Linked DNA regions of Homo sapiens. The protein of the gene in region 3 purifies or fractionates together with the protein of the main gene of each other region. This does not show direct contact. Each region holds a gene or a part of one and is shown on either strand. Other genes may lie near its edges. The genes, in order: CAND2, TBC1D9B, ADORA3 and ATP12A.

Region 1 (7,032 bases), on a different chromosome or scaffold from region 3:
GAGAGTGGCCTGAGATAACACAACTAGGAATTGGCATAGCTGGGCCTTAGAGCCAGGTCTGTCAGGCTCCCCCACCTCTGCACTGCCACCGTGTACCCTTTTATGAATGGCTTTCAGGAGATAATGTCTTTAACCCAGCAGAGGAAAGCTCTGATGGTGGAATGGCAGGCACTGGCAGGGGAGCAAGATGTCTCAATGGGGGTGGACTTGATAGCTTCTTTCCTCCTATGCCTGTGGTCCTGTCTGTCATTCAGACAGATTTCCAGGGCAGAGATGCCCCTAGGCCTGAAGGCAGGGCATCGATGGAGACGATGGATTTAGAGCCTGATGGGGTACTTGGAACAAGATGGGATGGTAAATGAGATTGGACAGGCATGCGGGGGCCTTGAATGCCAAGCCAGGGAGGTGGGACACTTGTCAGTAATAGAGAGCTAAGGATGTGTGTTCGTGGGTGGCCTACTGTGGGGGTGACAGTGATCCATTAGAGGGGATGGCTGCTGAGCTGCCCGGTGGCCGTGGCCCACTGTGGCTGTCCAGACACCACCCTGTGGGTCCAAGTGGTCCACAGAGTGGTATGGGCAAGGCCATGCTGGGCTCTGAGCCTGTGCCTTGGGGTGCTCCCAGGCAAGACTGTCCCCCTCTGAGCCTCCTGTGTGCCTCCACAGGTGATAGGGCTGGGCCTCGTGGACCTGAATCTCAGCTCTGCTGTTCCTCGCTGTGTGCCCTGAGAGTCTCACCCGCTCTGAGTCTTAGTCTTATCGTCTGTAAAATGGAGCTTGGCAGTACCTTCACTTTTGAGGTGATGGTAAAGACTGCACGAGCCCTTGACTTTCAGGGAGATTGTCAGGTAGAAAGCCACACAAACCCAGCATTTCCTCTTTATTAATCCTGCCTGGAAGCCTTTGGAATCAGGACCCTTGAGAGGCAGAGATCGGGGGAGAGAAGAGGCCAAAGGGAGGCTCTGTCCCTTCTCCCTTCTGGAGTCCCAGTAAACGAAACATCACATAGCCAAACCTGATGCCAAAAGATGAGTTTTGTGCCCCAAATTGATTCTCCAAGTCTACATGAAGACTTGGAAGTCTGTTTTTTCCCTGGTACAGTCCAGACAATTAAGGGTCTGGAGGCAGAGGGGAGGACCCTAGTTTAACTCCAAGTATTTCCTTAACTTGGGGCAAGCCACTTCCTCTATCTAAACCCCAGTTTTCTCATCTCTATAATGGGGAAATAATCCCTGTCTCAAAAGGTCGTCATGAAGCTAAAATAAGATTATGGGTTTGACATGCTTAGCCCCATCCGTAGCACTCAGTAGATGCCCATTAAAAGGTAGGGAATGTTCCCCATAGGGTATCTATAAATGCTGATCATCAAAAAGTGAAGCACAGTGCCCAGCTCTCTCTCCTCCCTGTCCCTTCTCCCCCGAGCCACAGACCTGTCCTGGGAGATGAGGGTTCCACGTGTGTCTTGTTCCTGCCCCAGAGAGTGAAGACGAGTACAGCGATGACGATGACATGAGCTGGAAGGTGCGCCGGGCAGCTGCCAAGTGCATCGCAGCCTTGATCAGCTCGCGGCCTGACCTGCTGCCCGATTTCCACTGCACCCTGGCACCTGTGCTCATCCGCCGCTTCAAAGAACGCGAGGAGAACGTCAAGGCTGACGTCTTCACTGCTTACATCGTGCTGCTGCGGCAAACACAGCCCCCGAAGGGATGGCTGGAGGCCATGGAGGAACCCACCCAGACCGGCAGCAACCTCCATATGCTACGTGGACAGGTGGGCGTGCCTTCACCTCCACCCCTACCCCCGATTTGCCTACCCAGCCACTCACTGTTAGTGTCCCTGGACTTGGAAACTCAGCTGGGAGAACATCCAGCCATGGAAGGGAAGGGAAGGGGTCCCTGGGGTGGGGGGCGGGAGCCAGCCAGGCTTCTGGAGTGTAGTAGTGACAGCCAGCCTGCCTGAGTGAGCTTGAGCAAGTTGCTTGGTCTCTCTGTACCTGTAAAATGGACGCAGAAAATTTGCCTACTCTCCAAGGGTCTGTGTGCGGTCACCAAAAGCCTGGCACAGAGTGAGGGACGAGTGCTTGGGAGATATCTTGATGCCGACATCCTCCCTGGGGATGTGTCTGGCAAAGCCTCCTGGTAGTGGGCAGGTGGGTAGGTTTCTTGGGTGTTCCCTGACCTTGACTTCCCCCTCCTGCCCACAGGTGCCCCTTGTGGTCAAGGCCCTGCAGCGGCAGCTTAAAGATCGGAGCGTCAGAGCCCGCCAGGGATGCTTCAGCCTCCTCACCGAGCTGGCGGGTGTCCTCCCAGGCAGCCTGGCCGAGCATATGCCTGTGCTGGTATCAGGTAGGCTGGACTGCAACCAGGTATCTGCTGTTCTGGGCCACTTCCAGAACCCAGACCCCACCCCTGAGTTGAGCCCCCAGTTCCTGAGACAGTCTGAGACCCAATCCCAGGCTCAGTCCCTGGTCAAGAGTCTCCAGTGGCCTCCCACTACCAGCAGTGAGAACAAGGCTGGCTCCAGTGAGTTCCCTGGACATGTTTCCCTCAGCCCTGGCCACTGGTCAGGGCTGACTTCTTGGAAACTTCTGCAGAAGAGTTTAGGTGCTTCAGTCCAGCTCAGGCACTTGTAGGTACCCCAGCCTTGCTTCCAGGGAGGGCCGTGTTGCATCAGAGGCGGTGGCCTCATAACCTTTGCATTCACCCTGCAGGCATCATCTTCTCGCTGGCCGACCGCTCCAGCTCCTCCACCATCCGGATGGATGCCCTGGCCTTCTTGCAGGGGCTGCTGGGCACCGAACCAGCTGAGGCCTTCCACCCACACTTGCCTATCCTCCTGCCACCTGTGATGGCCTGTGTGGCTGACTCTTTCTACAAGATTGCAGCCGAGGCCCTGGTGGTGCTGCAGGAGCTGGTGCGGGCCCTGTGGCCGCTGCACAGGCCTCGGATGCTGGATCCTGAGCCATATGTTGGAGAGATGTCTGCTGTCACCCTGGCGCGACTTCGTGCCACTGACCTGGACCAGGAGGTGAAGGAGCGGGCCATTTCCTGCATGGGCCACCTTGTAGGCCACCTGGGTGACCGGCTTGGGGATGACCTGGAGCCCACGTTACTGCTCCTCCTGGACCGCCTGCGGAATGAGATCACCCGGCTGCCCGCCATCAAGGCGCTTACGCTGGTGGCCGTATCCCCACTACAGCTTGACCTACAGCCCATCCTGGCCGAGGCACTGCACATTCTGGCCTCATTCCTGCGGAAGAACCAGCGGGCTTTGCGACTGGCCACACTGGCAGCCCTGGACGCCCTGGCCCAGAGCCAGGGCCTCAGCCTCCCACCGTCTGCCGTGCAGGCCGTGCTGGCTGAGCTGCCTGCCCTGGTCAACGAGAGCGACATGCATGTGGCCCAGCTGGCTGTGGACTTCCTTGCCACAGTGACCCAGGCCCAGCCAGCCTCTTTGGTGGAGGTCAGTGGCCCTGTGCTCTCAGAGCTGCTGCGGCTGCTGCGTTCGCCCCTGTTGCCAGCCGGGGTTCTGGCAGCTGCTGAAGGCTTCCTGCAGGCCCTGGTAGGGACCCGTCCCCCGTGTGTGGACTATGCCAAACTCATCAGCCTGCTCACTGCGCCTGTTTATGAGCAGGCTGTGGATGGTGGGCCTGGCCTGCACAAGCAGGTGTTCCACTCATTGGCCCGGTGTGTGGCAGCCCTCTCAGCTGCCTGTCCCCAAGAGGCGGCAAGCACAGCCAGTCGCCTGGTCTGCGATGCCAGGTCGCCCCACTCCAGCACGGGGGTCAAGGTCCTGGCATTCTTGTCGCTGGCTGAGGTGGGTCAGGTGGCTGGGCCAGGCCACCAGCGGGAGCTGAAGGCGGTGCTCCTGGAAGCTTTGGGGTCACCCAGTGAGGATGTGAGGGCTGCAGCCTCGTATGCACTGGGCCGTGTGGGTGCTGGCAGCCTGCCCGACTTCCTGCCCTTCCTGCTGGAGCAGATCGAGGCTGAGCCCCGACGACAGTACCTGCTGCTGCACTCACTCAGGGAGGCCCTGGGGGCCGCCCAGCCTGACAGCCTGAAGCCCTACGCCGAGGACATCTGGGCCTTGCTGTTCCAGCGCTGCGAGGGTGCTGAGGAGGGCACCCGGGGGGTGGTGGCCGAGTGCATTGGGAAGCTGGTCCTTGTGAACCCTTCGTTCCTTCTGCCCCGCTTGCGGAAGCAGCTTGCTGCAGGTAGGCACACAGGTGTGGGCAAGGCAGCCCACCTCGGAGGTGGGCAGTTTGCCACTGAGCATCCAGGCAGCTGGGGCAGAGTGAGCTATTTCAAGTCACTGGATACAAGAATCACGGTATCTATACGACAGAGGCAAGGAAGCTACAGAGGAACACACAGTGATACCTGAGACTTAAAGCCTTCCTCCTATGGGACTGTGGGATAGAAGGGACAGAGTCCTTGATTGGTCCCTACAACAAATACATTTAAAAATCTCATGATGTTGGCTAGGCATGGTGGCACATGTCTGTAATCCCAGCACTTTGGGGAGGCTGAGGTGGGTGGATCACTTGAGCCTAGGAGTTTGAGACCAGCCTGGGCAACATGGTGAGACCCTGCCTCTACCAAAAAAAAAAACAAAACAAAAAACCTCATGATGCCAACTTCATAATCCTTGATGTGGACAGTAGCTTAGTGCTCCACACAGAGGTCAACAAAAACAGTTTTCCCAGTAGCCGTAGACTGCAGCCTGCAGAGGGTCAGCTCTTTCGGCTAGCCTGAGCCAAGAGCAGACGTCAGTATAGACGGGGACAGGCTGACATGCCCCCGAGGCTTGGAGAGGGCTGGGCAAGAACCAGGAGGGGCAGGCGTTTTGGCTTGTCGTGTTTTGGCACACCAGGTGTCTTAGCTTCAGGAGGTGGAAAGCAGACAGGTAGGGTCATCAGGCTCCTAGGAAAATGAGAGTTCCCAGAATGAAAGGCCAGTGGGCTTCGAGCTGGCCAGCTGGCCCCTTACAGAACCAGTGGATGCTCTGCTTGACAGAATGCAGGTACAGTGTTTGGTAACCTATGTGGTACCTACAGTAATTAATACTGAGTAAATCAAGAGCTGCTGTTGTTACTAGGTAGGTTAGTGATTTCAGTTAAGGCCTTCTTGGGTTGCTGGGTTCGTAAGAAGCAGTTGTCTGGCCTCAGGACTGGATGGAAGAACATTGTTGAGGACACTGTCTATTACATCACACAACCTTGAGAGACGAGAGTGTTAAGATGCAGAGGAGCCCTGCTTTGCCTAAACACCTATTTGTTTCTATCTCACGTGCACTGTTGAACCAGCCACCCGGTCACATTTCCTTTTTAGCACCAACTGCTGGGAAGCTTAGAGCCAGATGAGTGGTCTGCTTCTAGTAGGTTCCTGGGACTTCCTTATTGATGCTCTCTGTACATCTTCCTGCTAGTCTCCTTCTCACCTCCCTGCCTTCAGTCGTCCTTGGCCTTGTTCTTGTTTTCAGTTCACTTAATCTTACTCTCTTGTGCCTGTCTTCATCAGCCACCCTAAATCTTCCTGGGAGCCAGTCAGGCTGGCAAGGGAAAGAGGTAAAAGCTGAAAGTCTGAATTCAGTAACTCTTCCATTCATTCATGCCTTAGCACCAAATGGTAAACTTTTCCTCGAGGCTGAACATAAAGCCTGTGGGGTGGAAACACCTTAGCCCATTCACTGCATTGTGCTGGGGTTGGGCAGGGAGCAAAGGGGGCGAGCCACTGAGGAGAGATTCAGACGCAGGTGGAGCGTCCACCCATTCGTTTCCTTCATTAAGGGAATGTACTTCCCCTCTTTACTGGGCTTCTCTACTCAGAAAGCAAGCGGCAAAGCACAAGTAAGCAAGCTCTCTGTGACCGAGCCTGGAGGTGATCCGAGTTCTGTTAGGCCTCCCTGACCACCAGCCAGAACGCAGCCCCAGGAAGAGGGGCCCAGCCAGGAATTCTGGATCTGCTGTGTGGCCCTAGACATGAACTTAAACCCTCTGAGTCTCTCTTTCCTCATATGTCAAAGAGATGATTTTTATTGGTGATTTTATTGGTTCTTTTAATACTACTTTATTATTAATAGGATCATTGTTAGGACTCATTGAGATAACATGTCTGAAAAATCCCAAGGCCTGAGGGAAGGTCTTTGTTGGAGCAGTTCCTGTCTTGGTTATTGGTTCCCTGTTTGCAGCCTGTGGTGTTACCTGAGCACTGGCAGTCCTACTGTTTCAGCTGCAGCAGGAAGAATTGAGGGGAGATTCAAGGCTGCCAAGGGAAATGGTAGAATCCACTTTCCCAGAGATGGGGAGGGGGTACAGTTCTGTTTTCCAGGGAAGCAGGGGGAGGAGCCTAAGCACCTTCTGATCTGTGAGCCTCCAGGATTGGCCCCTGCCCCTCACTAACTCACCTCTTCTTGTCCTGCAGGTCGGCCACACACCCGGAGCACCGTCATCACAGCGGTCAAGTTCCTTATCTCGGACCAGCCCCATCCCATTGACCCCCTCCTGAAGAGCTTCATCGGTGAGCACCTACCTCTTGCCCCTCCACCTTGTTCAGTGCCCCCACCCAGTCCTTGAGCTTGGGCTGATGTTTACTACCCAATAGCCAAGGGCAATGGGAGACCCGGGAGGTGTGCCCATGATGGGCAGCAGGGCCTGGCCCTCCAGTTAAAAGGCCTGGGTTCACATCCCTGCCTTCCTACTGCCACTCAATCATGGGTGGGTGTGGCATGCCCATCACACCTCTAAGCCTCGCTTTCCTCATCTGTCAAATGGGCGTGAGAAACTCTTATTATCTGCATTTTCTAGAGTTGTCCTGGAAGCCCATGGGCAACTGAGGGAGAAGATGCTTCATCAACATATAGACTCTTGGGAATGGAAAACCACCAGCCTCTCACATGCCTTAGCTTTTGCGGGCCCCAAAGTGGGGCAGGGAAGAGTGCTCCCCCCGGCCCCGCCTGTCCACTAGATCGCCCTCTGTCTGAGGGGCCTTCTGGCCTGAGGAGCCCAAGCAGCCTTCACTGGGAGGAGAGGAAC
Region 2 (7,032 bases), on a different chromosome or scaffold from region 3:
GCTGGACCCTTTGGGTAGCGTCACCATCCTGTCTGCCTCCGGCCAGACTCAGCCTTCAGGGGCCTCAGTCCGGCCCTCCCCTCACCCTCTATGTCTCTCTGCCCTGTTCCCAGGTCTTCTCGTGGGCACCCTGGACGTGGTGCTGGACTCCAGTGCCCGCGTGGCCCCTTACCGCATCCTGCACCAGACCCAGGACTCCCAGGTCTACTGGACAGTGGCGTGTGGTAGGTGCCCTGAGTGGTGAGGGGTGCTGGGCAGGGCCTGCCCTGGAAGGGCCGTTGCCGAGAGGAAGGGGTGTGTAGCCCACGTGTCTGGGTGGTATTCCCTGCTGACAGCATAGCCCAAGGCTGCAAGAGGGAAGTGGAGGAGCCTTCGCTTCCATCTTAGAAAGGCAGCTCCGTGGCCCGGTGCGGTGGCTCACGTCTGTAATCCCAGCACTTTGGGAGGCCGAGGCGGGCTGATCACGAGGTCAGGAGATCGAGACCATCCTGGCTAACACGGTGAAACCACGTCTCTACTAAAAAACACAAAAAATTAGCTGGGGGTGGTGGCGGAGGCCTGTAGTCCCAGCTACTCGGGAGGCTGAGGCAGGAGAATGGCGTGAACCCGGGAGGCGGAGCTTGCAGTGAGCCGAGATCGCGCCACTGCACTCCAGCCTGGGCGACACAGCGAGATTCCGTCTCAAAAAAAAAAAAAAAAAAAAAAGGCAGCTCCACTGGTCATGGGGACAGGGCAGGAGAGGACAGCCCCATGGATCCCCATGTACCTCTAGGGACGCAGGTGTGGGGCTAGCCAATGTCCACATTCTCATGCCACCTTTTCTCAAGGTAGACGTAGTCGGCCTCATTCAAAGATTCCATATTTGCAAATTGGCCTACTCAATAAAATGTATTTGCAATCCCCAAATCAATACTTCCAGCGATTTTGTGGTCATTTGGAGACACTCATGGACACATGCACGTTCAAAGCAGTGAAAAATTTGACTCGCCTGATGCCCATGTCCCCAGCTGAGGCAGAACAGGACGACGCTCTGCCTTCTTGATTCAGCTCTCATACTGCACTCACGTGTCCTGTTCACAGTCTCTGCAGTGCCATGTTTTTCCCATGTTTGTGCTCGTTGCTGATGACTTGGCTGTTTAAAATGGCTCCCAAGCATAGCGCTCTTGTTCCTAAGAGCAAGAAGGCTGAGTTGTGCCTTGTGAAGGAGATCTGTGCATGAGAGCAGCTTCATTCAGGCGTGAGTGATAGTGCTGCTGGCCGTGAGCTCAATGCCAATCGATCAGGAATACGTATTAAATAAGGCATCTTTAAACAGAAACACATGTAAAACAGTTATGTATCGGTCAGTCGACAGAAGTGTGATTAGAGGCTCCAGGAACCTAACCCTGTGTTCCCCCGGGGTACTGGTTCAGGATTCGCTAACTCAGTGTTCGCGGCCACCTTACAGAATCTGACCACCTGAATAACGAGAATCCGCTGTAGTTGTCCTCCTAGGTGGAAGCGCACTCACCCGTCCAAGAGTGCGGAGGGAAGTCCCCTTTCAGCGGGTACCTGCTGGGTTGAGTTTGCTCTGAGAAAATGACAGTCCTAGCTGACGCTCAGACAGTGCTTCCTGTGTGCCAGGCACTTGCCTGAACCACCCGGTACCTCCAGAAGGCATAAGTACTTTGGTCTTCTCTATGTTGAAGGTGAAGAAACTCTGGCCCAGAGGGGTTGAGTAACCTGCTCAGAGTCACACAGCTGCAGTTTGGACCCTCTCAGTACCTCTCTGAAGCAGAAGCCACAGTGCCCTTGTTCTCCAGGGTAGTGGTTTCCCTTGAAGGCCTGGGAGAAGATGATGAGACTCAAAAGTTTGTCAACCTCACGGCTGGAACCCAGCTTCAGGAGGGGAAGGGTCAAGGAAGTAAAAGCACAGGGCGGGCGGCACCCCGGGAATAGCCCCACTCCCAGGTGGGCGCTCTGCACGGGCATCCTGACCAGCAGTGCCCTTCTCCTTTGCAGGACTGAATAACTCAGTAAGAGTTAGGAAGGGGAGTTTGTCCAAGGCCAAGCAGGGAAGCCCAGTTAGACCCCCGATCTCTGGCTTCAGAGCCTGAGTGGACCCTGGGGGCAGCAAGAGTTTGCCAGAGGAGGGGCTTCCTGTGGGGAGGGGACCATTTCTGAGTGGGCCAGGAGGTTGGTGTGTGCTAATGAGGAGAGGAGCTGCTTTAACATGGGCCCTTGAGATTTCCATCTCTGGCAGCAAGAGCTGCCCGTCCCTGGGGAGAGAAAAGTACGAGGGGCAGAGTGGGAATCCCTTTAGTCACAGCAGGCCTGGTGCTGGGGAGGGGCCCAGCCACAGCCACGCAGCGGAGCCCATGTACGTAGCCCCGTGCCACACACTTGACCTCTCCCCTCCTGCCAGGCCCAAAGCCCTGCACTGGCCCTGGCTGTGCCTCCCTTTCCTGCCAGCCAGGCTAGGCCCCAGAAGCAACTCACCAAGACCAGACATGGCCCTGCCAGCACCTGCTTAGTGAGTCCTGACCCTTGAGCCTGGTGTTCGAGGACACCTGGGGGTCTGCCTGCCTCCATTTCTGGCCTTGTCTCCCCAGCTCACAGCCTGGCCTTCAGCCGGACCACACAGCTGCAGGGCCTGGAGGAGCCACACCCCTCCTGGCTGCTGTGCCTAGTGTCCGCCATGCCAGCTAACCTTCCCTCCCGCTCCTCTGAGAACTGCCCAGACTCCACAGACCCATCCTTCCTCCTTACTCCTCTGGACATGACGTGTCTGCACACGCTTTTACGTGGAAGCCCATGAGGCCGGGAGCTTCCGAGGGTGAGGGCAGGCTCTGCAGCCAGGCACCCAGGGTTAGGATTCTGATTTGATCACTTCCCAGCTGTGTGACCTTGGGTAACTTATTTCACCTCTCTGTGCCTCAGCTTCATCTGGTAAAATGAAAATAATGGTACCTGTCTCCACTGTGTTCTGAGAATGAAATAAGATAATCCATGGAAAACTCTGAAAACAGAAACAGCATTTAATACTCTAATTAGCTATTATATTATTTTTATTCCCAGCACCTAGCATAGAGATGGAATAGTTTCTTAGTATGAAATGAAGATTGAGTTACTTTTAACTAATATTTTTAATGCACATATGTAAAAAAAGAAATGTTTTTTTGAGGCGTTCTCTTTCTGTTGCCCAGGCTGGAGTGCCGTGGTGCAATCACAGCTCACTGCAGCTCTCTGGCTAAAGCGATCCTCCCACCTCAGCCTCCTGACTAGCTGGGACTGCAGGCCCACGCAACCATGCCTCATTTTTTCTATTTTTTGTAGAGACAGCCATGTTGCCCAGACTGATCTCAAACTCCTGGGCTCAAGCGATTCCCCTGCCTCAGCCTCCCAGAGTGCTGGGATTATAGGACTGAGCCACTGTGCCCGGCCTATAAATATTTTTAATTAAAGTGCTGACACATCCACACAGGCAGCGAGGAGGAGATTTCTTCTGTTTTAGTTTTCTAGGAATGTTATGTGTAACAGAAAATAATACAGTAGAGTTGCACCACATGTAAATTTGACTTCCAAATTCAACTGTGGGTTCCTGGCAAAGAAACCGAAAAAGAAATCTCTACCTACCAACTAGGCCTTGGCCTCTGTGCATCAGGGAAAGGAGGCTGTAATAGAAATGCAAAGAAAAATGAAAAAAAAAGTTTAAAGTGAATTATGGATGACTTAAGGGGCTTCCAGGAGTAATTCTGGGGGCCTTTTGTGACTCACTGCAAGCTGTGTGATTCTGGGTGGAATCGTTTTCCCGTGGGCATCCTCCCCCAGGCCAATCGGGAGGATCTATCCTGTGGCCTTGCTTCTTAGGTCAGGGTCTGCTTGAGGAGATTTGACAAAGCAAACAAATCAGTCCCAAGCAGAACAGCCGGGCTGTGACACAGCCTTGAGCGGGTGCCACGGGCTGGAGCAGGTGACAGGCCCAGCCTGGCCTGGAGGGAGGGTCAGAGCTGTCTCCAGCTGGCAGAAGAGCCTGGTCAGGGAGGGAAGGAAGGTGGTCGGGGCAGGCGTGCCAGCAGAGACGTCTGGTTCACAGTCACACTGGCCTCCCGAGCATAGTGCCGTAGTGCTCTTGTTCCTAAGAGCAAGAAGGCTGAGTTGTGCCTTGTGAAGGAGATCCGTGCATGCGAGCAGCTTCTTTCAGGCGTGAGTGATAGTGCTGCTGGCCGTGAGCTCAATGCCAATCGATCAGGGATACGTATTAAATAAGGCATCTTTAAACAGAAACATGTAAAACAGTTATGTATCGGTCAGTCGACAAGAGTGTGATTAGAGGCTCCAGGAACCTAACCCTGTGTTCCCCCAGGGTACTGGTTCAGGATTCGCTAACTCAGTGTTCGCGGCCACCTTACAGAATCTGACCACCTGAATAACGAGAATCTGCCATGTCTTGGCTGAGGCTGTCTTCATGCCTGGTGGGTGGGCCTCCTGTCCCACCCCCGGACAGCTGAGAATGATTCAGGGTGTCATTCACTCCTCATCCTTGTGTTCATTCAGTACAGGCAAAACCCCAGAAACAGGTGCTGGGGGTAGGGGAGCCAGGCCAGGCAGAGATCTCCCCTCATCCCTTTGCTCTTCCCCCGGGGCTTCTTCCCCGATTCCTTAATGGGAGCAAACAATTCTTCCAGCCTTTGAAAGTGGCATCGTGCTGCCTTCTCTACGTTTTTGTTTTGTGTGTTGTTTTGTTTTTTGAGACGAGGTCTCACTTTGTCACTCAGGCTGCACTGTAGCCTCCGCCTCCCAGGCTCAAGCAATCCTCCCACCTCAGCATCCTGAGTGGCTGGGACCACAGGTGCATGCCACCACGCCCAGCTAATTTTTTGTATTTTTGGTTTCGCCATGCTGCCCGGGCTGATCTCGAACTCCTGGGCTCAAATGACCCTCCTGCCTCAGCCTCCCAAAGTGCTGGGATTACAGGCATGAGACACGGCGCCCAGATTTTCTCTACATTTTTTTTAATTTCCGTTGGGCCTATGGAGGACAGGGACCCCCTCCCTCCTAGGTGGGGCAGACACAAGGTAAGAAGGTGGCCAGGAGAAACTGAAGAGAGGGACAGTAGCTACTCGCCTGCCCAGCAGGAGCCTCGCTGGCCAGGGGCCTGGAGTCTTGTAGGAAGCTCCGGCTGCTTATCTGTGGATACCTAGATGCTCAGGAAAGAGCTGGACTCATTTATACAAAGTATGACTGTGTCTGATTAATCACCTACATAGCAAAAGCCACATTAAGTTCTTTCAACTTGAGGAAAAGTGTAAGTTAGCAAGCTTGCAGGCACACAGACTATTTCTAGGACACATAGGAGACTTAGTGACTCTCCCTGTTGGCTTCAGGGACAGGTGGAAACATTCTCTCCCACACGACTGTGATTCAGCCTGGACGTTTAATTTTTTGTTTTTTTACCAGGACCATTTATTACTTTGTTATGCACATATCCATCAGCTTAAGAGGGAAAAGCAGCTTGAAGATTCTGGTCACTTAGATTTAGCAAATGAGGTCACCCACTTTCATCTCGCTTCTTTGAATGTGCGTTTAAGGCCTGGGGAATTCATGATTTTTCTTTTACTTTACCAAACCTCTTCTAGGTTCTTCCCGCAAAGAGATCACAAAACACTGGGAATGGCTGGAAAATAACTTGCTCCAGACACTGTCCATCTTCGACAGTGAGGAAGATATCACCACCTTCGTCAAGGGCAAGATACACGTAAGGTTTACCCGCCACTCTCTGTTCTCACCCTTCCCTGGCCAGCAGTGTTCTCGTGTATTATCCTATTTCATCTTCACGATGTAGGGTGCGTCCCCATTTTACAAAGGTGGAGACTGAAGTGTCAGCGCTCCTTCTCTTGGAGTTGAAAGGGGCAGAGGAACTCGTGACCCAGGAAAACCCCTTCTTACCCTGGGTGGGCACTGGAGGCTGCTGAAGCCTAGTGCGGGGCTTCCATTCCTACCCAAGTGCCTTGGAAGGCGTACGCAGATAGACGGTTCTGTTTGCCAGAAGAGATGCTGGAAACAATTGGATATTTTGAGTTGTTTTTTATAATAAAACTAACGTTATTTTAAAAGACACATGCCCTTTACCCAAAAATTCCATTCTTGGCGTTTACCCTACAGTGTATTCATATATGCAGAATATACAGTTTAAAGGGCCAGGTGTGGTGGCCCACACCTATAATCCCAGCACTATGGGAGGCCGAGGTGGGTGGATCATCTGAGGTCAGGAGTTCAAGAGCAGCCTGGCCAACGTGGCAAAACCCCATCTCTACTAAAAATACAAAAATTAGCCAGGCATGGTGGCACGCGCCTGTAATCCCAGCTACTCAAGAGGCTGAGACAGGAGAATTGCTTGAACCCAGGAGGCCGAGGTTGCAGTGAGCTGAGATCGTGCCACTGCACACCAGCCTAGGTGACAGAGTGAGACTCCATCTCAATTAAAAAAAAAAGGCCAGGTGCGGTGGCTCAGGCCTGTAATCCCAGCACTTTGGGAGGCCAAGACAGGCAGATCACGAGGTTAGGAGATCGCGACCATCCTGGCTAACACAGTGAAACCCTGTCTCTACTAAAAATACAAAAAAAATTAGCCGGGCGTGGTGGTGGGCACCTGTAGTTCCAGCTAATCGGGAGGCTGAGGCAGGAGAATGGCATAAACCCGGGAAGCAGAGTTTGCAGTGAGCCAAGATGATGCCACTGCACTCCAGCCCAGGCGACAGAATGAGACTTCGTCTCAAAAAAAAAAAAAAAAAGTAGAGATGGGGTTTTGCCATGTTGGCCAGGCTAGTCTCAAACTCCTGACCTTAAGTGATCCACCCACCTTGGCCTCCCAAAGTTATGGGATTACAGGCATCAGCCACCGCACCTGGCCTGAATGTATATGTCTTTTTCTTTCTGTTAGGTTATTGCCTTAAGTTAGATTCATGGGAGGGCTCTTACCAGGTCAAAGTCGTGTGGTGCAAAGTTGCTTTGGGCAGGCCCATGTGAATTCCTGATACCAGAACTTCCTAA
Region 3 (7,480 bases):
CTTGACCTCCCTTTCCAGGCCTCACCCTCCCTCCCACCAACACTGGCATGGAGTGAAACTCCTTGTGCTCAGACTACAGCCTGTGAGTCTTGGGCTCCTTGGATTGGCCTCAGTGGCTGGGCCCTGGTTAGAAGGCCCGTGTGGACAGAGGCTCCAGATCAGCCCCCGGCGCGGGAAAGCCCAGCCTGACCCCCGGGGCTTGATGGAGAGGCAGAGCCCGGAGAGTGGTGGGGGAGGGGCCTAGGAAGCGCCACCTTCAGGGCTGACCCTGAGCACTTGTCTTTTCTAAGCCTCAGCTGTCGGCTAGCAAACATGAAGCTCTATAAAAATGTAAGGCTTTGGGGAAGTGGTGATGGGGCCAAGAGGAAGTGAGCAAGCTGATTTTGTGCAACTCTGCAGACAGCCGTGGGGTGGGAGACAGCCTTGGGCAGAAGCCCCACCTTTCGCCTGCCTGACATCCGGTCTTAGCTGCCCGTGGACCAGCTCTAGGGCTCCAGAGGCCTTTTCCCTGGGCTCCTGCTAACACTGCATCTTGCTGTTTTTGTAGGCTGGCAACTGGGGTTTTTTAGGGTTTTCTGAGAAGCTGCAAAGGATCAGATGAATCATCTCTGCTGCCAGCCTCTCAGATTATTAAGCGGAACCCCAAGGGCAAGGTTGCAGCCTTGTGGTTGAGCTGTGCCCAGTGGCATCAGACCCAAGTAGGCCCCAGGCCAGGGTTTGGGACAGGTGAGGCCTTTCCCCTCCAGTCACTCTTCCTGTGATTTAAGCCAATGGTTTCTCCTAGATCTTTGCTTCCCTGATGGAGTTCAGGTTCTTTTAGTAGAATTTTAAAATTTATTTTTAATTAAAAAAAAAATAGAGGTGGGGTCTCAGTATGTTGGCCAGGTTGGTCTTGAGCTCCTGGCCTCAAGCAATCCTCTCACCTCAGCCTCCCAAAGTGCTAAGGTTGCAGGCTGAGCCACCACACCCAGCCTCTTCTAGTAAAATTGAAAACAGCCATGGCCTTTCTTTTAGGTGGGAAATTCTCCTGAACCACAGTTAACTACAGTTAACATATATATATATATATATATACACACACACACACACACACACACACACACATATGTGTGTGTATATATGTATATATATGTATATGTGTGTGTGTGTATATATATATGTGTGTGTATATATATGTGTGTGTGTGTATATATATATATAATATATATATATATATTTTTTGTTTTTAAGAAAAAAATTGTACCTTGATCCAATAAAAATGGTTTCCTTTCTGGCCCAGAGCTCACCTTGGGGCCCCAGCCTTACCAGCGACCTGCTCATGCAGTCATCTCTCTGGTCCTGCCATCTCTTCCTAGCTCAGAGCAGTTGCCAAATCTACATTATACTTGTGCTTTGTGCCCATAGTCTTGGTGGCTACTTTCTTTTTTAGATCTGAGAATACTGATCTCTACTGATTTTGATAGCATGGCAACATCAAACCCAGGGACTCCTTGTACTTTTGAAAGGTTTGTAGAGTTTATTTGCTCATTTACTTACTGAGGGCTGCCATTCGGAACCTGGGCTCCGAAGCAGAAGCCTGGGTTTGAATGCTGGCTTCGCCACTGCCTAGCTTACAACTTTGGGCAAGTTATTTAACCCCGCAGAGTCTCAACTTGCTCAGCATAATGGTAGTATCTATTTCATTCGAGAGCATTGAATGAGTCTGTGAATAGAAGCTGCTTAACACTGAGTAGTTGGTATGATGCAGAGCACTTAAGAGTCCTCGCTGATTTATTGTTTCCTTATATACCCAATGCCTAGTTTATGCCACCTGATTCACTGAAGTGCTTTCCTATTCATTCATCAAAAATGTACTGAGCACCCATGATCTGCCAGGCATCATAGTAGGGGCGAGAAATGCAGAAATGGAAAGTGGTGGTCCCTGTCCTCCAGGAACTTACAGGCTAAGCGGGGAAGTCATATACACACAGCACAGTGTGGTCCCAGAGGAGAGGTGAAGACTGGGAAGTTTTCTTCAAGGTCCTGTTGGGTAACAGTCTTGGAGGAAAAGTATTTGTTTTCTAGATGGACTTGGGGGAGAAGGGCCCTGCAAACCAGACAAAGAGTGTGTGCACAGGGGAGAGGAAGTGAAAGAGAATGACTCTGAGCCACGAGTTGCTCAGTCTGGTGCAGCCAATGGTGTCTGTGCGGACCCAGGTGACAGGAGACTGCAGAGGCTGGGAGACCCATCAGAAGGGTATAAGCCACTCTAAGGAGTCTGGACTTGATCCTAAGGCAATGTGCAGACCAAATGGTTTAGAAGGGGCAGGGGTCATCCTGGGCATGGAGCTCTGGCGTGGTTCCTCTGGTTGCCTGAGGCACCGAGTAGGAGGCTGCAGCATCTCCTACTTGAGATGTGATGAGGCACATGACCAAGAGTGGCTGTGCGCCATGGGCTGTGGGTGCAGCGGTAGGAATGGGCAAATGAAGTGACCTTCTGCCCCAGCCTCTCTGTCCTCTTTCCCAGATTGCCTTTTGGTTTTCAATCTACGGTCAGGTTCCAGGCCAAAATGTTAAGTGACTGTGAAAGTCCTTCTCCTCTGTTCTCAAATCACCCCACCCAGCACTGATGGACCTTGTCTATTCAGAGAACATGAAGGAAGGGCTTCTCTTGTTCACAGAAAAGAAACCCCCATGGTATGTGCAGAGAATTCTGAGGGTAGAATTCCCAGATGGGCAGAGGTGGCTGGGCTGGTGACCCTAAGTGTGTCTCCTGCCTTTATTCTCTCTAGTGGGTTATTCTTTCATGTGGTATCTTGCCTACAGCATGCTGTGTTTGGACACAAACCCCTTTCCTTGGTTTCTCTGACCCAGCTGAGATGGACTGATTCCAAAAGAACTCACCTATGTACTGGGGTAGGGGAGGGAGGGTTTTTTGCAGTATTTAACTAAGGTTCAAAGAGTGCTATATAGTGAGAAAGGCTTCTTTTTTTTTTTTTTTTTTTTTTTTGGCAGAGTGCTGCCTCCTAGAAATTTCTCTTGGTAACTTCCTTCTCTGAAGCACAGATAAAGAAAACAATTACAGTAGAAACATTTATGAGGGACACATTGGAGGCCGATGAAGCTTTTCAAGTTCCAGCAGTGCAGGGATGTGGGCAGAACTGACATTGGAAAATACTAGAATGATGGAAATTCAGTTGGAGAGGACTGCCCTTTTTAATGTCTGGGGAGTCTGCTCAGGGAGAAATGACAAGTCTGGCGGGGACAAGTATGGGATTTGGTAAGACTTGGATCAACTTGGGATACAGGGTGGGGGTCGGGAGTGGAATCAATGAATGATGCCAGAGCAGATCAACTAACAAGAGGACCCTGATGAGCCCCAGGCAGAGGCGTCTCCCTTATGCCCCACTCTGAAGTGTTTGTTAGTAAACACCAGAACGCCATTGTTGTTACTGCTGAATTTTATTTTGGGCTGTACATATTTAGATGCTTAAGGTAAAAATGATAAAGCCCTCAAGCCACTGTGTGGGTTTGGGTCCAAGTGTTCCTTCTTGCTGCCTCTCTAACACGCCTGGTTAAAATAATCCCTTTGGATGGTGCTGAGAAGCACCTGAACCAAGTGGGTCCCCAAATAACAATGGCGTGCAAGTGTCTGGTTCCCAGAAGTTGGTGACTAGGTAAGCAGCTTCAGGGAGAGGGGGCTGATTCCCAGACAGTCGCCTGTTCCTGCGGGGATGGGGCTGAGGCTTGGGGAATGTGGGCAGGAGGATATGCCATTTGATTCTGTTGCACACGTTCTTTTCCCTTCTTTCTGTATGTCTGGTCATTCTGCTATTCTGTCGTTCCTCACATAGGTTGGACATTGGCCGGCTGCCAGCATAAGTGCCAGTGTGATTTTGCTAGGGTGTGAGCTGAGAAAGAGAGGTGGAGGCTAAGCAGGTGTGATGCTTCTCAGAGGTGCTGAGTTTTTGCCCTTCTGAGCAGGGAATCTTTGCTTATCCCTTTGACCAAGGATCTTTGCTGCAAAGGCTGGGTATCGGCTGTGCTCAGCAAAGCGTCAACTCGTGCAAGAACTTAGCAGGAATAGTTCTGGCTAAGGTTAGGAGGCTGCCACCAAAGTCTCTTTTTTGTTCCTCTGCTTCTCCCGTTTGCCTCCTTATCATGAGATCTTTTTGCTAAGCTGGCAGAAAGATTGCATAGTCAGTGCTTCCAGCTCTGCTCCCACCTGATCCTGCACTGTCCTCTGGTCCCTGAATGAATGAACTCTGATACCCAATCTTGTCTCGAGCCTTCTCTATGCCACTCATGGCTCCTCTTCTGCTCTTTCCATCTTTTTGCTGAGAGTTCTGAGCTCTGTACTTCCTCTTGGCCCATCTCACTTCCTGAAACACCCCTGAAGAGGGTTGCTTATCTTGATGGAACTCAAAAAGCCAAAAAGCTGCAGGCAGAGGCGTTGAGGACATCTGTTTGGGGAACTAAGAGCAGCAGCACTTTCAGATTCAGTCCATATAGAGCTGTCCTACAGCATTCTGGAAACTTGAGGATGTGCGGTGCATAAAGGGGCTGGAAGTGACCCACCTGTGATGAGCCCTTTCTAAGGAGAAGGGTTTCCAAGAGATCACCCCACCAGAAAAGGGTAGGAATGAGCAAGTTGGGAATTTTAGACTGTCACTGCACATGGACCTCTGGGAAGACGTCTGGCGAGAGCTAGGCCCACTGGCCCTACAGACGGATCTTGCTGGCTCACCTGTCCCTGTGGAGGTTCCCCTGGGAAGGCAAGATGCCCAACAACAGCACTGCTCTGTCATTGGCCAATGTTACCTACATCACCATGGAAATTTTCATTGGACTCTGCGCCATAGTGGGCAACGTGCTGGTCATCTGCGTGGTCAAGCTGAACCCCAGCCTGCAGACCACCACCTTCTATTTCATTGTCTCTCTAGCCCTGGCTGACATTGCTGTTGGGGTGCTGGTCATGCCTTTGGCCATTGTTGTCAGCCTGGGCATCACAATCCACTTCTACAGCTGCCTTTTTATGACTTGCCTACTGCTTATCTTTACCCACGCCTCCATCATGTCCTTGCTGGCCATCGCTGTGGACCGATACTTGCGGGTCAAGCTTACCGTCAGGTAGCCTGCGGCGTGGGGTGGGCAGCAATTGAGGCAGCTGGGAAATGAGGCTACAAAGCCCAGAGCCCAGACTTTTTGAGTAAAAATGTATCCAAATTGGCCCTTGATGTTGAAAGAGGGCAATAAGTGTCTTTTTGTGATATGGTCTGTGAGGGGGTTAGCAACAATGGGCTGGGACTCAGGAGCTAGAATCAGAGGAATGCTCCAATCCTTTCTCCACTGACTAGGGGTGGGTGCTCAATCCCTCCAGCTGTAATTACTAATCCTTGGCTAAAAATGATGAAATCTTGATGCATCTTTAATTAGTAAAAAATGCTCTTCAGTTTTAGAAATGATAAAAGCCTACTAGATAAGACTTATTATTTTAGGAGAAGCAGGCAGATAAACATAAGAGGAGATAAACTGATGGTTCTGTTGTTTTGCAAATGTAGGTTATTATTTTATCTTTGCTTCCTATTCTGTGCCTACTTCAATGTTGAGAAAGGGATTCTTGGAATATATATATATTCCAATATATATATATTTATTATAATAAATATATGTATCCTATATATATTCATTATAATAAATATATGTATCCTATATATATTCACTATAATAAATATATGTATCCTATATATATTCATTATAATAAATATATGTATCCTATATATATTCATTATAATAAATATATGTATCCTATATATATTCATTATAATGAATATATATCCTATATATTTATTATAATGAATATATATCCTATATATTTATTATAATAAATATATCCTATATATTCATTATAATAAATATATATCCTATATATTTATTATAATATATATATCCTATATATTTATTATAATAAATATATATCCTATATATTTATTATATTAAATATATATCCTATATATTTATTATATTAAATATATATCTCCTATATATATTTATTATAATATATATATCCTATATATTTATTATATTAAATATATATCCTATATATAATATAATAAATATATATATCCTATATATATGTATATTTTTCCTCCTCCTCCTGAGATGTGAGAGCTTTTTTCGTAAAAATATTCTTCATTACATGTGACCATATGAATAGAACGAACTGCCAAATGGAGAAATCTACTTCCCCGGGTGACCTAAATTGCATTGGTCTCGTGTTTCTCGTCACTTCTCTGGAGGAAAGAGCAGAGTGAGGGAGCTACAAACAAGCTTTAGATGTAGACAGTCTAGGTTCAAATCCCAGATTAGAGATCTGATCTTGAACAAGTTGTTTAACTTTATCTCCTTTGGTTTCCACTCTGTATCACAGTGGTTACGATGCTCGGAACTCAGACTTACCTTGTTTTAGTTTTAGCCCCACCACTTCTAACTTGTAGAAGTTACTTGTTTGTGTTTCACTTTTTAATCTACAAAATGGGGATAATTGCACTATCCTCATAAAATGAAATGCGTTAACATATGTAAAGCTTTTAGAAACATACCTGTCACACAGTCTGTGCTCAATAAATGGTGGCTATCATTACTATTATTTTCACAATTGCCATCAATAAAATTGAGGTTATAATAAAATATCTCCTGTTTGTTGTGAGATTTAATTGAGATAAAAATCTACTGATACTTAACTATATTTGTTTCCTTTTTGTGGTCTGTATAGGCTGCTGTCAGGAAGGACAGTTTAAGGAGCAATGGGGACTCTTACTCTTACTGTCCTTTAAGGTCTCTGAAACACTTCAATACAATTTTGTAACTTCATTGATTCATTTAACTCAAATACCAAGTATGGATGCCCATGAAGATAGAGAAGCAGGAGCAGGCACAGGTAGAGGGGAAGTGTCGGGGAGGCATAGTATAATTTATGAGAATCTGCACAACAGCCAAACAGAACAGTGCCAAGAACAGCAGGCAAGCTTGCTTTGAGAATATCATTTCTCACCAGGCAGACAATCCTAGGAGACTTAGATGAATCTCAGCTCCCAGGAACTGAATAATTCTTAGGCTTACACCTTATTGGGAACAGAAGGAGTAAACTGAGTTCAAGGGGGACTTAAACTGCTGAATTCACCTGTGGATGTTTTTGAGTTAAAAAAAAAAAGAAAAAGAAAAGATAGGTAACAGTTGTATAGCTCTCAGTAAGTGGAGCCCTGAGTGGAGCACGTAAGCACTTGACTCTAGGCAACATCCTCCTTATCCATTCAAGAGTTTTCTTCTTTAGAAAAGTCCCCAGAGAAGTTTCCTGGATTTTTCTCCAATCGTTGTCTGCTCATCTTGTCTTCGTATCCAGTGGAGTTTAGCTGGAATCACCATAGGATATCAATGCTGCCCTCTCTTAGCAGAAGATTGGAGAATTAAGAGAGTATATGCCTTATCTCACCTCTCTCTC
Region 4 (7,032 bases), on a different chromosome or scaffold from region 3:
CCTTCAGAGCAGCTGGTGGTGGGGGACATTGTGGAGGTCAAAGGAGGAGACCAGATCCCTGCAGACATCAGGGTGCTGTCTTCTCAGGGGTGTCGGGTAAGCGGCAAGGGGTATCCACCCCAAGGACCATGTTCCAAACCTGCTGGCTCTGGGGTCTTTCCCAGCATCAGTATAAGAGGCAGGGAATGAGGTACCCAGCTGTGAACCACCTTCAACATTTCTTCTAGGTGGATAACTCATCTCTCACGGGGGAGTCTGAGCCCCAGCCCCGCTCCTCTGAGTTTACCCATGAAAACCCCCTGGAAACAAAGAACATCTGCTTCTATTCCACAACGTGTCTGGAAGGTAAAAGGCCTCTGGCTCTCAGCCCACATGTCCACCTGTGTCCTTTCTCCCTCCTGGGCTCTCAGGTCTGTCCTTTGCCACACCCCGTTACAAAGCTCATCCCAGAGGAAGCATGGAACTGAAGGGCCTAGAGGACGATGCTTGGCCTTGGGAATGTGGTGTGCCTATCGATTGTGCCAGCCCCCAGAGAGGGCTGCAAGCTGGCTGCACACCCCTCCTGGCTGAGGACCCCTGGAATAAAGCATCTACTTCCCCTGTAGGCACTGTCACCGGCATGGTTATCAACACGGGTGACCGCACCATCATTGGCCATATTGCCTCATTGGCCTCAGGAGTTGGAAATGAGAAGACGCCCATTGCCATTGAGATCGAGCACTTTGTTCACATTGTGGCAGGAGTGGCTGTCTCCATCGGCATCCTTTTCTTCATCATCGCTGTGTCCCTGAAGTATCAAGTCCTGGACTCCATCATCTTCCTCATTGGCATCATTGTGGCCAATGTGCCCGAGGGCCTCCTGGCCACTGTCACTGTGAGTCCATGCTGTTAGACAGCCTGCACCTGGCCCTGTGGACACAGCACTGGTGCTGGGGAGGCGCCCACACAAACTGCAATCTCCCCCAAGTCCAGAGCACCACGCCCTCCCCGCCAGCGACAACCCTGGAACATTCTGCATAGACTGTTCCTTACAGAGACAAAAAATTTGTCATATTTTCAATATTTGACTGCGTTTTCCTTGAAAACGTTATGCTTTCAATCTGCAATTCACACAGCTTACTCTGCCCCATAAGATCTAGATAAGACAGACTCCACCATTCACAGGTTTTCTAGAAGCTTGATGCCTTCCGCACATTTCTTTGGCAGTTTCTACAACTTAGGCATTTAGGCACATTGCCACACTCCACTTACCTCTCTTACGAAAAAAAAAAATTCCTCCCATTTTTCCTGCCGAGGACTCCAGCCCTTTCCTGGCCAACCCCAGACCCAGCTGTTTGTATGGGCCCATGTCATTCAGTCCCTAGAGAAGAGCCCCCTCCTCCTCAGTCTCTCCTGTGGGGGTCTCAAGGGGTAGGAGAGGAGGGGGTTTATGTTTCCAGTTTTGTGACTACATGATCATTGGCCTGCTATTGTCCTGACCAAAGAAAAGAGAAGAAGTTTTTGAAGTCCAGGTCTCCTCTGACTCCAGGAGATAGTAATTTGGGGAAATTGGAGCCAAAAGAACCCTTTGAGATCTAGGGGTTTAAAAGAATCTTTAAAATATGGAGCTTTTAAAATGAAACAACATAAAGGCTGCTGAATTCCCCAAAGCAACAAGTGTGTCCTTTGGGACAACTCTTTGGCATGCACTGGTCAGTCTCTCTTACACACTCCTGCTTAGGGATCACAGGAGGCGTCGTGATTGTACGTGAACACGAGCCACAGCAGCGTGTCCGTGTTTGCTGCCCGTGGGTCCCTTGTTTTCTTCAAGTCATGAAGGAACAAGAAAAGCATCTCATATTTAATCTTTAAAAAAGGATTGTGGCATAGAGGGCTCTTGGCGGCGTATAAGCCACCAGGTCAGCTTAGCTGCGCTGACAACCACACCTCTCCCCTAAAACTAGTCCAGCTCTCTCCTAAAATTCAATCACAGCTCACATTGGCTATTTCTGTATTATTGGACCTGAGTTCAAATGAGGATTTTTCCCAAAGCGTCCTTCCCTCTCCTGCTAGGTGACCCTGTCGCTGACAGCAAAACGGATGGCCAAGAAGAACTGCCTGGTGAAGAACCTGGAGGCTGTGGAGACCCTCGGCTCCACCTCCATCATCTGCTCGGACAAGACTGGGACACTGACCCAGAACAGGATGACAGTGGCCCATCTGTGGTTCGACAATCAGATCTTTGTGGCTGACACCAGTGAGGACCATTCAAGTAAGTCTTATGGAGAGCTCGGTCTGGCCAAAGCTGTGGACTCCATCCTGGGGCTGAGCTGAGCACACAGCAGGGTCTGCAGCCAGAGGATTGCTGGACAGTGACTCATGGACGGCCAGCCCAACCCACAGCAGCCACTGTTCTTTCTCTGTCTTCCAGACCAAGTCTTTGACCAAAGCTCTAGGACTTGGGCCTCCTTATCCAAGATAATAACATTGTGTAACCGAGCAGAGTTCAAGCCAGGACAGGAAAATGTCCCCATCATGAAGGTAATGCTTCTGCAGCACTTGGTCTTAAATCACAGCCAGTTTGTAGTCACTTGCTGAGGTCTGATTGGGTGCTTGATTTCATCTCTCCAGTTGCTTAAAGTTTGTTCAGTGCTTGCAAGAGCAAGTCAGACTCACAAGACATCCAGAAATTTTTCTTTATGCACACTAGCTTTGAGAATACAAAGATGCTTAAAAGGTTTCAGAATATTGCTTTAGCGTCTTCAGAAAATTCTGGAAATGAATGCACTTCTAAGTTACTTTCCTGACTTTTCTGCCAGCTAAGTGGATATAATCAAAGTTCCTTTTAATATACACACCATTCATGGAAATTTAAAGTGTGATTGAATAAAAATAAAAGGACTCCTGTTAACTAGAATATGGCTGCAGACAAAGCTCTAAGGGGTCCTGGAATATCGGAACATACAATAAACTCTCCCCCTCCCTCCCTCTCCTCCTTCCCTTCCTCCCTTTTCCTCTCCATCTCAATGAGTCACTGAATCCCTGTTCTCCTGGCTTTTCTATTTGCCATCTGTTTCCTTCCCTGACTCTTTTTCTTTCTTATTTTTTTGTTTGTTTGTTTGCTTTTCTCTCCGTCAGACAGCTCATGAATGCTCTTTTTGGCCAATTGCTTCTTTGTCGATATCTTCCAAATCTTTATGTCCAGCTCTAATTTCTTACCTCAACTCCAACCCGAATCTCTGGCTGGCTGTGTGCTTCCGCTAGGAAGTTGCACAAATCATGCTTGTTAACTTCCACCCGTACCCAGCCTGGCTGCACATCAGTGCCTTGCCGCAATTTTCTAATTGTCTATGATATAACCATTCTATTTGTCATTGGAACAGAATATTTGGAAGTCATCTTTGACTTTATCCTTTCCTTATATCCAGTAAGCCACCAAGTTCTATCATTCTTGCTTCAAAATATACATAACTTTAGTATTTGTCAGCAGTACCTTGCATCTAAATAGCCGATTACCGGCTGATTGGAATTAAACCTCTTTGATTCCGGTTTATCCCTCCTGGGGTCTTTCTCGAATGCCACTAATTTCCCTTAATGGTGCTTTTATAGTCACTTAACTTTGCTCAAAATCTCTCCGTACTTCCCTGTTTTCTGCTTCTCAAGTCTAGACCTCAGGCTACCTTTCAGGGCCCTCCAGGTCTTGCCACACCCTCCACATCCGCTTGTACCTTGAACACTCACGGACGAGCCTGCCCCTCATGCCCCTGCACCCGCATCCTGGTTTCTGGAAGGCTTTCTTCTCTGTGTATCGGTAACCCACCTATCTATCAAGATCTAGTTCGTAGCTGCTTTTTTCCACGAAATCTTCAGTCCTCGCAGAGGTCCAGCTTCTCCAAACATCCCTAATGCCAGTAGGTGGCACTGTTGTTTACACGCTTACCACGGTCTTGCGGCCCTCCCTGATCACGTGATAATGTCTCTCCAGCTAGGTGGTAATGGGATCAGGAGGGTGTGTTTTGGGTCCTATGCTGAGGGCATGTTGGTTCATTAAATATGTGCTGCAAATATTTTTCTTCTTTGATTCCCAGAAAGCTGTGATTGGAGATGCCTCAGAAACTGCTCTTTTAAAATTCTCAGAGGTCATTTTGGGTGATGTGATGGAAATTAGAAAAAGAAACCGCAAAGTAGCTGAAATCCCTTTTAACTCTACTAATAAATTTCAGGTGAGTTTTTCCTCACAACCGGTAATCTCTGTCATCGGCAGCATGACCTTTCTACTTGCATGCATCCTTTGCTTACCTCATATTTTGAAGGATACCTGGCTTCAAAGACAGTCGTCAGGGATACAGCACCCAGGCATCTGGTCCCCTAGGTCAAGCTCCCTTGCTGGCCTCCTTCCTAACCCTGAAGCAGGGCAGAGAAAGAAAGAAAGGCAAGGACTTCATCAGGGCCTGGCTGCTCCTATGAATGAGCCATCTCTGTCACAGGCACACACTCTCTCTCTCTCACACACACACACACACACACACACTCACACCACCACTATCAGGTACCTTCTGCCGTGAGGAGCAGCAGCCATACTCCAAAGCATAAATGCCAGGTGGGCAGCAGGGAGGCCGAACACCTGCTCCTCTCACCTCTAGTGCATCAGGCCCTCGACCTACGTGGCCTTGTTCCATGTTCGCATCCGGCCTGTGAGGTAGGACTGACGAATCCTGACTCAGAGGAGGAAGCAGGCCCTTAGAAAGTGTTGAGAGACCAGAGTCACACAGCACCCAGTGTTCCCAAGCCTGACACCAGGTCCACGATTCTTCCACCATCACACAGAGGGAGTGCGGCACAGTTCAGGCCATGGGAGCAAGCCCTGCCCTTTGGGGAGACCGGTGAGCAGCCCCTGGGGTGACAGCCCCGTCGTTTTCTGGGGCCAGCCCCTGTGCTGTGGGTGGGGGTCTCCTTTCCATCCCCTGCTCAGGTAGAAGACGGCCTTCCTTGCCTGGTTATCTCAGCAAGCAGGGCTGGCCGACAGTCAGCCATCACAGCCTCCCCATGTTAAGACAAATGACAGTTGGGAGCCCCAGGTCCCCATGCAGATGGGATTTTCCACAGAGCCCACACTGGATCTGGACTTGGGCTTTGCACAACAGTAAAGTATAGAAATGGAATAACCACAACTGTACGTGTGGAGATTTCTGGTGATTATCCACCTGTCTTAGTTCGGATGGAATTTAGGGTTAGGGAAGAACTCTTTTTTTTTTTTTTTTTTTTTTTTGAGAAGGAGTTTCACTCTTGTCACCCAGGCTGGAATGCAGTGGCACGATCTCGGCTCACTGCAACCTCCGCCTCCCAGGTATAAGCAATTCTCTTGCCTCAGCCTCCTGAGTAGCTGGGACTACAGGAATGCACCCCCTGCCCAGCTAATTTTTTTGTATTTTTAGTAGAGACAGGGTTTCACCTTGTTGGCTGGGCTGGCCTCGAACTCCTGACCTCCGGTGATCTATCCGCCTTGGCCTCCCAAAGTGCTGGGATTACAGGCGTGAGCCACCAAGCCCAGCCTAGAGAAGAACTCTTGTGTTGCAAATGTCTTCTTTGTGGATAGTGAGCCAACAGAGAATCACAGTTAGCTAAATAGACAACTAACCAGAAACATATGATGTAAAATACTCAAGCCAAGAAACCACATCTCTTACGTAAAACCAAAGTGAAAATAGAGTGCGCAACAGTCCTAAAAGACTGTTTTAGGATGAGTATTATTATACTAATAATACTAGTGATAATAGGAGCTATTCTGTGCTAATTTCCACAAGTATTAAATTATTCATTCGCACGACAACACTGTGGGGTGGCTAGAGGATGAGGAGGTTGAGGTGCCGCGCATCAGTGCACAGTGTGAAGATGGGGTTAGATGATGCCTCCATCAGCAGCAGGACTTGGAGCCCTGCTGAAGCTCCATCTCCCAAGGTAAAGGCATGCCCAGTTGCAAAAGGGAGAAAAAGCAGGTTCCATGAGGCCTCATGTACAAGTTGGAGGAGAAAGTGGCTACACAGAGTGGGACTAGAAAGGGGAGAGGGGGGCCGGGCGCGGTGGCTCACGCCTGTAATCCCAGCACTTTGGGAGGCCGAGGCGGGTGGATCATGAGGTCAGGAGATCGAGACCATCCTGGCTAACAAGGTGAAACCCCGTCTCTACTAAAAAAAAAAATACAAAAAATTAGCCGGGCGCGGTGGCGGGCGCCTGTAGTCCCAGCTACTCGGGAGGCTGAGGCAGGAGAATGGCGTGAACCCGGGAAGCGGAGCTTGCAGTGAGCCGAGATTGCGCCACTGCAGTCCGCAGTCCGGCCTGGGCGACAGAGCGAGACTCCGTCTCAAAAAAAAAAAAAAAAAAAAAAAAAAAAGAAAGGGGAGAGGGGCTGTGTGAGTTCCTGCTGAAGAGGTCGGAGGTGCTGTCTGGATGCTGTTAGGGTCATTTTATATCTACACATGAGCGGTGCTCAGCCTCACCAGGGCTTTAGATGTCATGGCCTTGGAAGGAGACGTCTCTGCGGGAAGGAAATAAAATGGAAAGCCTGTGTCTTATTGATTAGAATGGTGATGCCCCAAACACACTGGTCTGTTAAGACATTTGAAACAGTTTACGGCAAATTGGAAAATGTTTTATAAAGTTTTATATAAAGATGAATGTATTTAATTTAAAAGATTATCCTTTGTAGCCACCATGATTAAGGGCAGGGACTCTGGAGCCTGCTAGCCTGGGCTCAAATCCCAGCTCAGCCACCAGATAGCCACCTATTGCTCAGTGACCCTGAGTGAAGCATTGAACCTCTGTGCCTCAGTTTCCTCCTTTGTAAAAGGGAATAATAATAGTACCCATGGCCTTAAAGTTGTTTTGAGAATAAATAAGTCGATGTGGACAGCACTTAGAACAGTGCCTGGCACGTGGTACATACCATAAAAGTGTTTCATATTATCCCTATGTTTTAAATGTAAAAAGCCTTATCTTGGCCAGGTACAGTGGCTCACACCTGTAATCACAGCACTTTGGGAGATCGAAGAAGGC

What was found.
Region 1: the proteins of ADORA3 (region 3) and CAND2 purify together in Homo sapiens (affinity purification with mass spectrometry, with the first as the bait; 2 studies listed by BioGRID). This does not show direct contact.
Region 2: the proteins of ADORA3 (region 3) and TBC1D9B purify together in Homo sapiens (affinity purification with mass spectrometry, with the first as the bait; 2 studies listed by BioGRID). This does not show direct contact.
Region 4: the proteins of ADORA3 (region 3) and ATP12A purify together in Homo sapiens (affinity purification with mass spectrometry, with the first as the bait; 2 studies listed by BioGRID). This does not show direct contact.

Annotation. Positions count from the first base shown.
Region 1 is NC_000003.12:12,813,665-12,820,696, forward strand, and holds part of CAND2 (cullin-associated NEDD8-dissociated protein 2), read left to right. Parts: intron 1-1,476; coding exon 1,477-1,769; intron 1,770-2,202; coding exon 2,203-2,344; intron 2,345-2,709; coding exon 2,710-4,212; intron 4,213-6,421; coding exon 6,422-6,517; intron 6,518-7,032.
Region 2 is NC_000005.10:179,897,894-179,904,925, reverse strand, and holds part of TBC1D9B (TBC1 domain family member 9B), read left to right. Parts: intron 1-113; coding exon 114-224; intron 225-5,618; coding exon 5,619-5,737; intron 5,738-7,032. UniProt on the Homo sapiens protein: May act as a GTPase-activating protein for Rab family protein(s).
Region 3 is NC_000001.11:111,500,634-111,508,113, reverse strand, and holds the start of ADORA3 (adenosine receptor A3), read left to right. Parts: upstream 1-4,480; 5' UTR 4,481-4,759; coding exon 4,760-5,109; intron 5,110-7,480. Other genes in the region: TMIGD3 (transmembrane and immunoglobulin domain containing 3), read left to right, coding at 4,760-5,109.
Region 4 is NC_000013.11:24,690,377-24,697,408, forward strand, and holds part of ATP12A (potassium-transporting ATPase alpha chain 2), read left to right. Parts: coding exon 1-96; intron 97-227; coding exon 228-345; intron 346-587; coding exon of another isoform or gene 588-605; coding exon 606-874; intron 875-2,052; coding exon 2,053-2,251; intron 2,252-2,410; coding exon 2,411-2,520; intron 2,521-4,067; coding exon 4,068-4,202; intron 4,203-7,032. UniProt on the Homo sapiens protein: The catalytic subunit of a H(+)/K(+) ATPase and/or Na(+)/K(+) ATPase pump which transports K(+) ions in exchange for Na(+) and/or H(+) ions across the apical membrane of epithelial cells.